Regions from separate parts of the Homo sapiens genome. Here region 1 is linked to region 2. Evidence: fine-mapped expression QTL. A gene starts in region 2. The other region holds a variant in brackets. All regions are shown on one strand. Distances are between the middles of the regions.

Region 1 (5,369 bases), 21 kb after region 2:
TGGTGGGAAGGGACAAAGGGTGGCCCTGGCAGATCCGGACGGGCAGGACTGGGTGTGTCCCATGAGAGCACCTCCTTCCTGGCCTTTCCTGTGGACTTTGTCCCACACCACCTGCCTGGGTTCCTTCCTTTAGTCACTTCCAGCTCCAGGCACAGCAGTTGGTGACTCCTTGGTGGGAGCCGTGTCCCACCCGGTCCTGATACTGCCGTCTTCTCTTTCACAGTCCTCCAGGCTTGGGCCAGCCTTGGGGGCAGCAGAGCTTCTGGGGTGAGTGTCGAGATCCTGTGTCCTGAGAGCGGTAGTCAGGGAGAGGGCTGGTCGGGGCAGGGCTGCCCGGGCAGGACACAGGATGCGGCCGGCCAGGCTGGGGCCAAGGTGTTCAGACCTGGACTTTGGGCTCGTGCTTTCTTCATGGTTGCGCCTTGCTCGCTGTCCCTTGGAGTCTTCATTTGGTTTTGCTTTTTTTGTTTGTTTGTTTTCACCTAATTTTTGCCAGACTTAAGCTAGTTTTGCTGCCTTTTGAAACTAGTGGAAGAATCATTTTATTCCTGGGGATAATTTGGGGCCTTTTGATCCCAACGTGAAGCCCTGCACATGGCTGCTTCATCAGGGGAAGGGTCTTTTCTGCTTTGGAGGAAAGGCTTTGGCAGGCAGGCTGACCTGGGAGTCTCCGGAGCTCTCGGCTCTCTGTAGCATCCTGGGGAGCTCAGACCATGGCTGCAGGGCTCTGGCCATAGCTTGCAGGCCATCTGGTTAGTGCTGCCCCCCAAACCCGGCCATTCCTCTCTAGTCCCCAGCAGGTATAGCCAGTGTCCACATAGACAGCACTGCCTCAGATCTGGGCTGGGACCACAACACTCACTCAGGGATCCCAGGGAACATGGCACCAGGTTTAGTAGGTTTAGTCGGGCATATGCAGTGTCCCTTACCCAGGTCAAGGCTCAGGCTGGGCCCATCTTAGCTGCCTGGGACACCCAGTCCTTTTATGAATCTGCCAGGGGAGGAGCAGCCAGGCTTGGGCTGGGGCCTGGATGGACGTGACATCGGGCACTGTGGCATTGTGTGCCTGTCTCTGTGTTGCAGCTGACATGGGCTCATTGCTCCTTCTCCAAGCCCTCTGAGGACATCAAAAGCGTGGACGCATCACTTTCCACCATCTTGCTGCCCACTGTCCCTCCATCCTGAGGCCTCCTAAGCACATGTGTGGGGTGGCAGGCACACTGCTGATAGCTGTGGATGCGGCCGTGACATCCTTCACCCCTGCCCCCATGGCATGCATGATCCATTAGGGAGGACCGTCTGCACAAAGGTAATCCATTGACTCAGACAGGGGGTTCATAGAAGAACAGGTGAGAGTGGCAGGGGGGGTATTCCTTGACCAGCTGAGGGTCAGCCAAGGGCAGGAAAGGGGCTGGGCACCCTCAGGGAATTGAAAGAAGCTCTCTGTGCCTGCAGTGCGGGGAGTGGGCTTGGAGAATATGGCAAGAGCTGAGGCTGGAGATGTAAGCAGGGGCCTTAAGTGTTGTTTAAGGAGCCTGAGTCTTATCTCCTGGGCAATTGGGAGCCACTACATAGTTTAAAGCAGGGCCTAACATACATATGTTTGAAATCTTTCTCTGGCTGAAGTCTCGAGGATGAATTGGAAGTAGAGGACCAACTAAAAAGTTGTTGCAGACATTAAGGTGGTGTCCTGGGTTAGGTGGGAGGTGATGGAGAGGAGAATAGGCTAGTGTTGACATATACCCAGGAAGCAAAACCATTGGGGCATGGTGCTTAATGCTTGATTGGATTGATCACATAGATGACTATGAGGAGGACTGACATATTTCAATCTATGAACGTGGTATACCCATCCATTTACTTATTTTTAATTTTTTAAAAATTTTTTTTTTTTTTGAGACAGGATCTCACTCTGTTTGTCCAGGCTGAAGTCCAGTGGCAGGATTTCAGCTCACTGCAGCCTCAACCTCCTGGGCTCAGGTGATTCTCCCACCTTAGCCTCCCGAGTAGCTGGGACTACAAGCACAGATCACCACACCTGGCTAATTTTTTGCATTTTTGTTTTTTAGTAGAAACAGGGTTTCGCTATGTTGCCCAGGCTAGTCTCAAACGCCTGGACTCCAACAATCCACCCACCTTGGCCTCCCGGAGTGCTGGGATTATAGGCTGGGGCCACTGTGCTGAACCCTGTCCATTTATTTGGATCTTCTTTAATTTCTCCCAGCAATATTTTGTAACTTCAAGCATACGTTTCCCACTTGTGCCTAGGTACTTTGTTTTCCAATGCTTGTAAATGGTATTGTATCTTTAGTTTTATTTTCCAATTGTTTTTTGCTAGTATATAGAAGTGCATTTTTTGGTATATTAATCTTGTATCCTGTAACCTTGATAATGCATTTATTAGTTCATAGTGTTTTTTGCTTCTTTTGTTCTTTTCTGGTAAATGCCTTAGGATTTTCTTTTTCTCCCGACTCCCCGCCTTCCTCCTCTTCTTTTTCTTCTGCCTTAGGATTTTCTTTTTCTTCTTTCTCCTCCTTCTCTTCCTCCTCCTCCTCCTCCTCTTCTTTCTTCTTTCTTCTTCTTCTTCTCTTTTTTGTTTTTAAATTGAGACAGGGGCTCACTCTGTTGCCCAGGCTGGAGTACAGTGATGCAATCTTAACTCACTGTAGTCTCAAACTCCTGGGCTCAAGTGATCCTCCCACCTCAGCTTCCCAAGTAGCCAGGACTACAGGTGTGCACCATCATGCCTGGCTAATTTTTATATGTTTTGTAGAGATTGGGTCTTGCTATGTTGCTCGGGCTGGTCTTGAACTCCTATCTTCAAGCGATCTTCTCACTTCAGCCTCCCCACATGTTGGGATTACAGGCCTGAGCTACTGTGCCAAGCTGAATTTTCTACATGCATGATTATGTCACATGTGACCATAGGTAATTTTACTTCTTCCTTTTCTATCTGCTTTTTTCCCTTGCCTTATTTCCTCTGGCTGGGACCTCCAATACCGTTTTTAATAGAAATGTGAGAGCCACTTCGTTTGTTTCTGAGTATAGTGAGAAAGTTTGGTCTTTTACCATTGCCCAGCTTGAAGTTTCCTATAGTTTATCTATAGGTGATCTTTATCACGTTGAGGAAGTTCTCTTCTCTTTCTAGTTTGCCGAGAGTTTCTAT[T/C]ATTCATGGATGTTGCATTTTGTCAAATATTTTTCTGCATCCATTGAGATAAATATATACATTTTACCATTTATTCTATTAATTGATGTTCTAATGCTAAAATAAACCTTTTATTTCTTGCATACTTTTTCATGATGTGTTATTTGTTTTATATATTGCTGGATTTGATTTGCTAATATTTTATTAAGGATTTTATGTCTATGTTTATGCATGATATTGGCCTGTAGTTTTCTTTTCTTGTAATATCTTTGTCCAGTTTTGGTACAGGGTAAAACTTGACTTAGAAAATGAGCTGGCCAGTGTTTCTCCTTTTTTCTGATGTGGTTAAGATTGGTATTATTTTATTCTTAAGTGTTTGATGGAATTCATCAGTAACACCATCTGGGTGAGGTATTTTCTTTGTAGAAAGGCTTCAAATTATGAATTCAACAACTTTAATAGATATAAGCTTGTTACATTTTATTTTTCTTGTGTAAATTTTGGCAAGTTGTGACTTTCAGTAGATGTTTTTCCATTTCATCAAGATGTCAAATGTAATTTCATGATGTTCTTACTAATATTCTTGTATTATTCTTCTGATGTCTGTAGGGTCTGAAGGGATGTCTCATCTTTTATTCCTGATATTAGTAATTTGTGGATTTTTTTTCTTTGATCAATCTAGCCAGAGCTTTCTCAATTTTTTTTTCTTTTCAAATAACCAATCTCCATTTTATTGATTTTCGTTTTTTTCTGCTAGTACATCAAATTTTCACTCTTTCTTATTTCTTCTGCTTACTTGGGTTTCATTTGTTCTTGGTGTTGTTGTTTTCTAGATTCTCAAAGTGGAATCTTAGGTAATGATTTTAGACCTTTCTTCTTTCCTAACATGAACACTGAGAGCTACAGATTTTCCTCTAAGCATCACACTAACCTTATCTCACAAAGACCGGAAAGTTGCATTTTTATCATCACTTAGTTCAAAGTATTTTCTTATGTCTCCTTGATTACTTCTTTGATCCCTGAGTTATTTAAATGTGTTGCTTAATTTTCAAATATTTGGGCATTCTTTGTGTGTCTTATACCTTGTTGCTATTGATTTCTAATTAAGCTCTGTTGTAGTTAGAGAACATATTCTGTATAACTTAAATCTTTTTAATTTTATGGAGGCTTAATTTATGGCCTAGCAGATGGACTATTTTGGAAAATGTTCAATGTGCACCTGAAAAGATTATATATTCTGCTGTTGTTGGGCATAGTGTTCTATAAACATCAGTTTGGATAAGATGATTGGTGTTGCTCAGGGCTATCATATTCTTACTAATTTTTGGTTTACTTGTTCTGTGAGTTACTGAGATGAGGGTGTCATAATAACCGATCACAATCATGAATTTGTCTGTTTATCCTTTCAGTTCTATCAGCTTCCTTCATTTTTTGGATTCTTTGTAATTAGGTACATACACATTTAGAATTGTTAGATATTCTTGATGAATTGACCCTTTTTTCATATGAAATATCCTTTTTTTTTTTTTGAGATGGAGTCTCGCTCTGTCAACCAGGCTAGAGTGCAGTGGCGCAATCTCAGCTCACTGCAACCTCCGCCTCCTGGGTTCAAGTGATTCTCCTGCCTCAGCCTCCTGAGTAGCTGGGATTACAGGTGCCCACCACTGCGCCTGGCTAATTTTTGTATTTTTAGTAGAGACGGGGTTTCACCATCTTGGCCAGGCTGGTCTCAAGCTCCTGACCTTGTGGTCTGCCCACCTCAGCCTCCCAAAGTGCTGGGATTACAGGCGTGAGCCAACACGCTGGTCCGTGAAATGTCCCTTTTTTTATTTTGCAATATTCCCTATACTAAAGTCTACTTTGATGTTAATATTTTTATTCCTGCTTTCTTATAATTAATGCTTGCATTTTATAAATTTTTCCATTCTTTTACATTGTTTTCATTCTTTTACTTTTAACTTTTGTTTATATTTAAAGTATATATCATATCAGGCAGACAGCATATTGTCATTTCTTGCTTTCTTTTCCCCTAAGACGAAGAGTCTCCTGTCACTCAGCCTGGAATACAGTGGTACCATCAGGGCTCACTGCAGCCTCAAACTCCTAGATTCAAGCAATCCTCCCATCTCAGCCTCCCAAGTAGCTAGGACTACAGGCATGTGGCACCACACGTGGCTAAGTTTTTAACTTTTTTTTTTCTTTTTTTGAGACAGTCTTGGTCTGT
Region 2 (5,369 bases):
TGGGGTAGCAGATGGGACCACAGGGCATGTGGAATGTCTTAGTCTGTTTCACACTGCTATACCTGAGGTTGGGTTTGTTTTATTTATTTATTTATTTATTTAGAGACGGAGTCTCGCTCTGTCGCCCAGGCTGGAGTGCAGTGGTGCGATCTGGGCTCACTGCAAGCTCCGCCTCCCGGGTTCACACCATTCTCCTGCCTCAATCAGCCTCCCGAGTGAGGGGCTGGGACTACAGGTGCCCGCCACCACACCTGGCTAATTTTTTTGTTTCTTTTTTTTTTTCAGTAGAGATGGGGTTTCACCGTGTTAGCCAAGATGGTCTCGATCTGACCTCGTGATCCGCCCGCCTCGGCCTCCCAAAGTGCTGGGATTACAGGCGTGAGCCACTGCGCCCAGCCAAGGTGGGGGAATTTATTTTTTTAAAAAAGCAAAACAGGTTTATTTGGCTCAAAATTCTGGTGGAAATTTCAAGATTGGGCAGCTGCACCTGGTGAGGGCCTCATGCTACTTCAACTCAAGGCAGCAAGTAGAAGGGGAGAGGCATGCACAAAGAGATTACGTGGCCATATGGCGAGAGAGGAAGCAAGAGACAACCGCAGGAAGGCTGACTCTCTAACCAGCTCTCATGGGAACTCACCCCTCCACAAAGGACACTAACCTATCCATGAGGGATCCACCCCTATTACCCAAACTCCTCCTACTAGGCACCACCTCCTAACACTGCCTCATTGAGGCTCAAATTTCAATACCATTTTGGGCAGGGGCAGACCACATGCAAATCACAGCATGGGGTAATAGTGGGGGCAGGTTGACACAGGGCTGCTGCCTACCCAGCACCAGCTGTCTCTTGGCCCCTTCCAGATCCTGGCAATCTGGCTACAGGCATGGGCCCAGCCTTGGACACAGATGTGGCCACAGGAAGCTGTTAGCTCTCCAGATCTGATCAGCCTGGGAGAGCGGCACAACAAAGGCTCCCAAAGGAGAGTCGGGATCCTCAGCTAGCCTCAGCTCTGCTACCCACCCATATGTGCCCAGAACAGGAAAGATACGTGTTTCTTACTCCTCCGGGACTCCTAGGTGAAGCTGAGACCAGGCTCTTCTTGAGTCCTCTCAGCTATGGTGCAACCACCAGCCTAGCAAGGAATCAGAAACATCTTCCGGAAGAGTCAGCACCATAGAGGGTGCTGAATGGGCAATGAAGCATCCCGGAGATGAAACATCTGGGCAGTGAGGCATCCCACAGGTGTTGGGCTATGCAGTCACTCCCTTTCTCAGACCGAGGCAAGTACATAAGCACTCTGGGCCCCTAATCAGGGGCCTGGGGCCAGGTGGGATGAAAACAGCAGTGTCCTGCCACCTGAACAACTGCTACTCACGCAGGCCCCACCTGGCCTCTCAGAGGGAGGAACCTGGGACTCCTGAACCAGATTCAGTTTCTCCTTCAACAGCCGGGACTTTTCGCTCCTGACTGCAGAAAAACAGCTTCAATGTGACCATCCTTGATAGTCCGAGGCTGAGTAAAATGGCCTGAGGAGGCAAAATCTGAAAAGCTCTATTAGGTGGCAAACTGCTGTCACTAGAAGAGTTGAGGCCCCCTTCTCCTCCCCTGCCTGACCGCCTTCATTCCTGGGAATGGAACAGGTTCTTGGGGCAAGGGTGAATCCTCGAGCAGGTCCCAGGATCACTATCCTCACCTCCCCGCGGCACTGAATGGCTATAGCTGTAAATGTGCGTCCACGGGGTCACTGTCCAGCCACCAGGACCAGGTGCCTGGCCATCTGGGGAATCGGAAAACGCTCAGCGGGATGCTCTGGCCACCTCCCCTGCCCCCAGTTAAGATGTAGAGCGTTCAACCTAAAATGCCTAGAAACAAAGCCCAGGCCCGGGAAGGTCGAACGAGTGCGACGCCGCTCCCTCAAGCTCTTCCCTCGGAGCCGTCTCATTTCCCAAAACTCCCAAACACATCACAGAGAGAGGTGTTGAGCCAGGTGGTCACTCCCTTTTCCAGAACCACAGCAAGAAGTTGAGCCTGCTGGGCTCCTAACGAAGGCCCTGGGGCCCGGTGGGATGAAAAGCCCTATTAGGTAGCAAACAGCTGTCACTAGAGGGGTTGAGGCCCCCTTCTCCCCTGCCTGACGACGACGGCGGCAGGAACTCGACCGGCGCCGGACAGCTCGCAACTTGCCTTACCAAGCGTAAATCTCGGTTCCTCCCAACTACCCGCGGCCACGGCCTCCGCAGCAGAGCGCCGGAAGCAGAGACGCGTTTCGGGAGGAAGGTGCATGCTGGGAGCGGCGGCGCATGCTGGGAGCTGTAGTCTGCGACGCAACTCGGCCGAGGTGGCTCCCTGGTCCCTGAAGCTCCCAGAGCCCGCGTGTTCAGGCGGTCCCGACACCCCGGCCCGAGCCTCACCGGCTGGAGGACTGAACGCCTGCCGGCCCTCCGGGTATGAGCGGAGGCCGGGATAGCCCTGGGCTCCGCCGCCCCCGGAAGGAAAAAATACAGTGCGGTCCGCCGCCCGACCACGAAAGAGCGGAGCTCGGGAGCCCCGCCCCCTGGGCCTCCGACGTCCGTGGCGCTTTCCGTCGCGCGAGTGCGATTGGGCCGCCTGTCACGTGACCCGAGACCCCACGCCCGGTTGGCTGCCGCCTGGTTACCAATGGGAGACTAGCGGGCCGGCGTACTGGCCTGGTCCAGCACCTGCGGGGCCCTCGGGCTTGGAGGGCTGGGCCGGGCGGGGAACGGGCGGGGCGGGCCGGAGGCGGCGGCGGCTGACTCGCCTTCTCTCCGGGGCTGCGACCCCGAGGCAACCGGCTGCAGATGGGAGCCCGCGGAGCCGAGGATGCGGGCGGGCCGGGGCGCGACGCCGGCGAGGGAGCTGTTCCGGGACGCCGCCTTCCCCGCCGCGGACTCCTCGCTCTTCTGCGACTTGTCTACGCCGCTGGCCCAGTTCCGCGAGGACATCACGTGGAGGCGGCCCCAGGTGGGGCCGTGTGGGGTGCGGTGGGCGCCGTTTCTGGTTTCTGAGATCTCCGCTCCTCGCAGGGAGCGGGGCGGGGTGGGCGGCCAGGGTAGCTCCGAACGCAGGGTCCGCCGTTGTTCTCCTCAGAAGTGGGCGCCCGGCCCCCTCTTTTCGTACCTCCTTCATACCCCCGCCCAGAACGAGCAGGACTCGGCGCTACCCTAAGGACGCTAAACTAGGTCGTGGCCTCCGCCTGCGAGAGCTCCAATCCAGGAGGCTCAGAGCGCTGCGAGAGGCGTTTTAACAGAGCCCCAAACCCCGCCCCACCTGTTTGCTTTCGCCCTGAAGAGCGTTTGTGTCTGCTCCTCCCGCAGAGAGGGCCGCTCGTGCCCCTCTGAAGTGGCTAGGCCGAGCCCACAAAGCAAAGCGTGATAGAATTTCAGTTTTGGATTTTGTGCACCTGCCTTTCCAGTTGTAACACCTAGAAATGGCACCTCCAAGGGATGCCCTGGCCGAGTGCTGTGTTCATATTTTTAGAAATGGTTTATCTGCTGAATAAGACTGCCCAGGGAGCAACCTTGCCCTAAGTGGATGCGGTCTTAGCGGAGACAACTGATGGCCGCCAGTCTTCGAACAGAGCTGGAACTTCTGGGCTCTCGTGACTGAGATGGCTTTGACAGGCCACCTGGTTTCCTTGGACAACACTGAAGGGCCTGGGAGGAGGCAAGGGTCAGACCATGTAGAGCCTTGTCATTGGAATTTGGGTTTTATTTTGTTAAAAGATTGATTTTAGGTGCAGCTGGAGGCCACTAGAGGGTTTTGGTAGAGGAGTGGTTCTCTTGGATGTGTGTTTTTACAAGCTCACTCTTGCTGCTGGGTGGGAAGTGGGTTGTCGGGGCAAGAATGCAAGGGTCCATTGTAGTGGTCCTGGAGAAAGATGAAGGGGCTCAGATTAGCTTGACGACTGTTAGGATGTGGGTTTGGAGTAGATTGGTTTGAGACGTACCTTGCAGGGGGGATCGAGAGGCCATAGTGACTGATTGAAATAGAGGGTGAGGATAGTGGAGGGATCAACATGCCTTCTGGGTTTCTGGCCTGAACAGGTGGGTGGATGGTGGTCCTGGGACAGAGCCTGGGGGTGACCTAGAGTTGGGCTTTGCTCTCACGTCTTCAGGTGGAGCTGTCCTGGAGGCAGGTGGATCTGTCCTGGAGGCAGGTGGATACGGAGCAGGGATAGGCTAGAGGCATTCTTCTGGGAGGCGGAGCATATTAGATGGTTTACAGTCCACAGCCTGGGAGAGTGTCTCGGGGGAGTATCAGTAAAGAAGAAGGGGGCCTTGGGGCTGAGCCTTGAGGAACCCTAACATTTCTTGGGGTCAGGCAGGTGCCCTGACAGATAGACTTGAGAAGCAGCAGGCAGTGAGGGAGAGGACACCCGGGGAGCATGCGGCCTCACAGAAGCTGAGTGGGGACCACCTCAGGGGCAGCAGATGGCTGTTCTGCTGTTGTGAATGCTGCTGAGTAGTTGGGGAAGAGAGTTGGGACCAAGAGAAGCCCAGTGGGTTTGATAACATAGAGGTGACAGCGACATTGATCGAGGCAGTTTAGGGGCCATGATTGGCTCAGAAGCTAGAGGAGCCTGTGTGGAGAGTGAATGGGAAGCAGGTAGTGGGCATGGCAGCTCTTTCAAGAGCTGTAATGAAGAGAAGCCTGAAGGAGACTATGGTGCTGAGAGATAATGTCTTAAAGAACATGGGGGTGGGATTCTGCCCGGGGAGCTGGAAGGGAAGGAGTTGTGAGAGGAGCCCAGGCTCTGAGGGCAGGAGAGAGGGTCAGGTCCAGAAGCAGGAGGCAAGGTCGAAGCTCAGAGGGGTGGGCAAGGGCAGTGTGGATGTTTTGAGTAGACGGGGAGAAAGGGGAAGGTATATGATAGTTAGGGGGTGTGGGAAATGGAGCCTGCTAGAGAAACAGATTTCCAGCAGGATGGAGGACACATTTGAGATTTACCAGCATGAGTAAAAAGTGAAACTTTTCGAAGCCAACATTTAGCTGTTTTGAGAAGGAGCTTGCTAGAGTTTGGGATTTTTCCAGTAAGGAAGGAAGGCACCCCAGAATTAAGCTGGACAGAGGCATTTGAAGCCAGGAGCTGAAGGACACCCGCTGCAGGAAACCACCTTCCTGTCCCTTTTTGGGTAACACTGATGATCGGAAAAGCTCCACCCCAACTCCTGTCATCTAGAGCCTTGGGTTCTTAGTTTGAAGGGTTCCACAGCAGGCATGATCTAACTCTGGACAACTTTCTGTATCTCAGGAGATTTGTGCCACACCCCGGCTGTTTCCAGATGACCCACGGGAAGGGCAGGTGAAGCAGGGGCTGCTGGGGGATTGCTGGTTCCTGTGTGCCTGC

What was found. PIP is the estimated chance that this variant, and not a neighbour inherited with it, causes the effect.
Region 1: its variant is the best candidate, but not a certain one, in a credible set for the expression of CAPN10-DT in esophagus mucosa (GTEx, PIP 0.79).

What each region holds. Positions count from the first base shown.
Region 1 is chr2:240,605,304-240,610,672 of GRCh38, forward strand. It overlaps a transcript of GPR35 not described here. Among named protein-coding and RNA genes, the nearest start is that of GPR35, 17 kb to the right of the region's middle. The variant T/C (reference allele first, on the strand shown) is at 3,167.
Region 2 is chr2:240,584,070-240,589,438 of GRCh38, forward strand. CAPN10-DT (CAPN10 divergent transcript) reads right to left here and starts at 2,247. Exons shown (of 1, transcript NR_103792.1): 1 at 1-2,247. CAPN10 (calpain 10) reads left to right here and starts at 2,665. Exons shown (of 12, transcript NM_023083.4): 1 at 2,665-2,983; 2 at 5,274-5,369. The coding sequence starts at 2,843. RefSeq lists enhancers at 412-481, 852-1,221, 2,212-2,391, 2,443-2,737, 2,676-3,502 and a silencer at 2,702-2,931.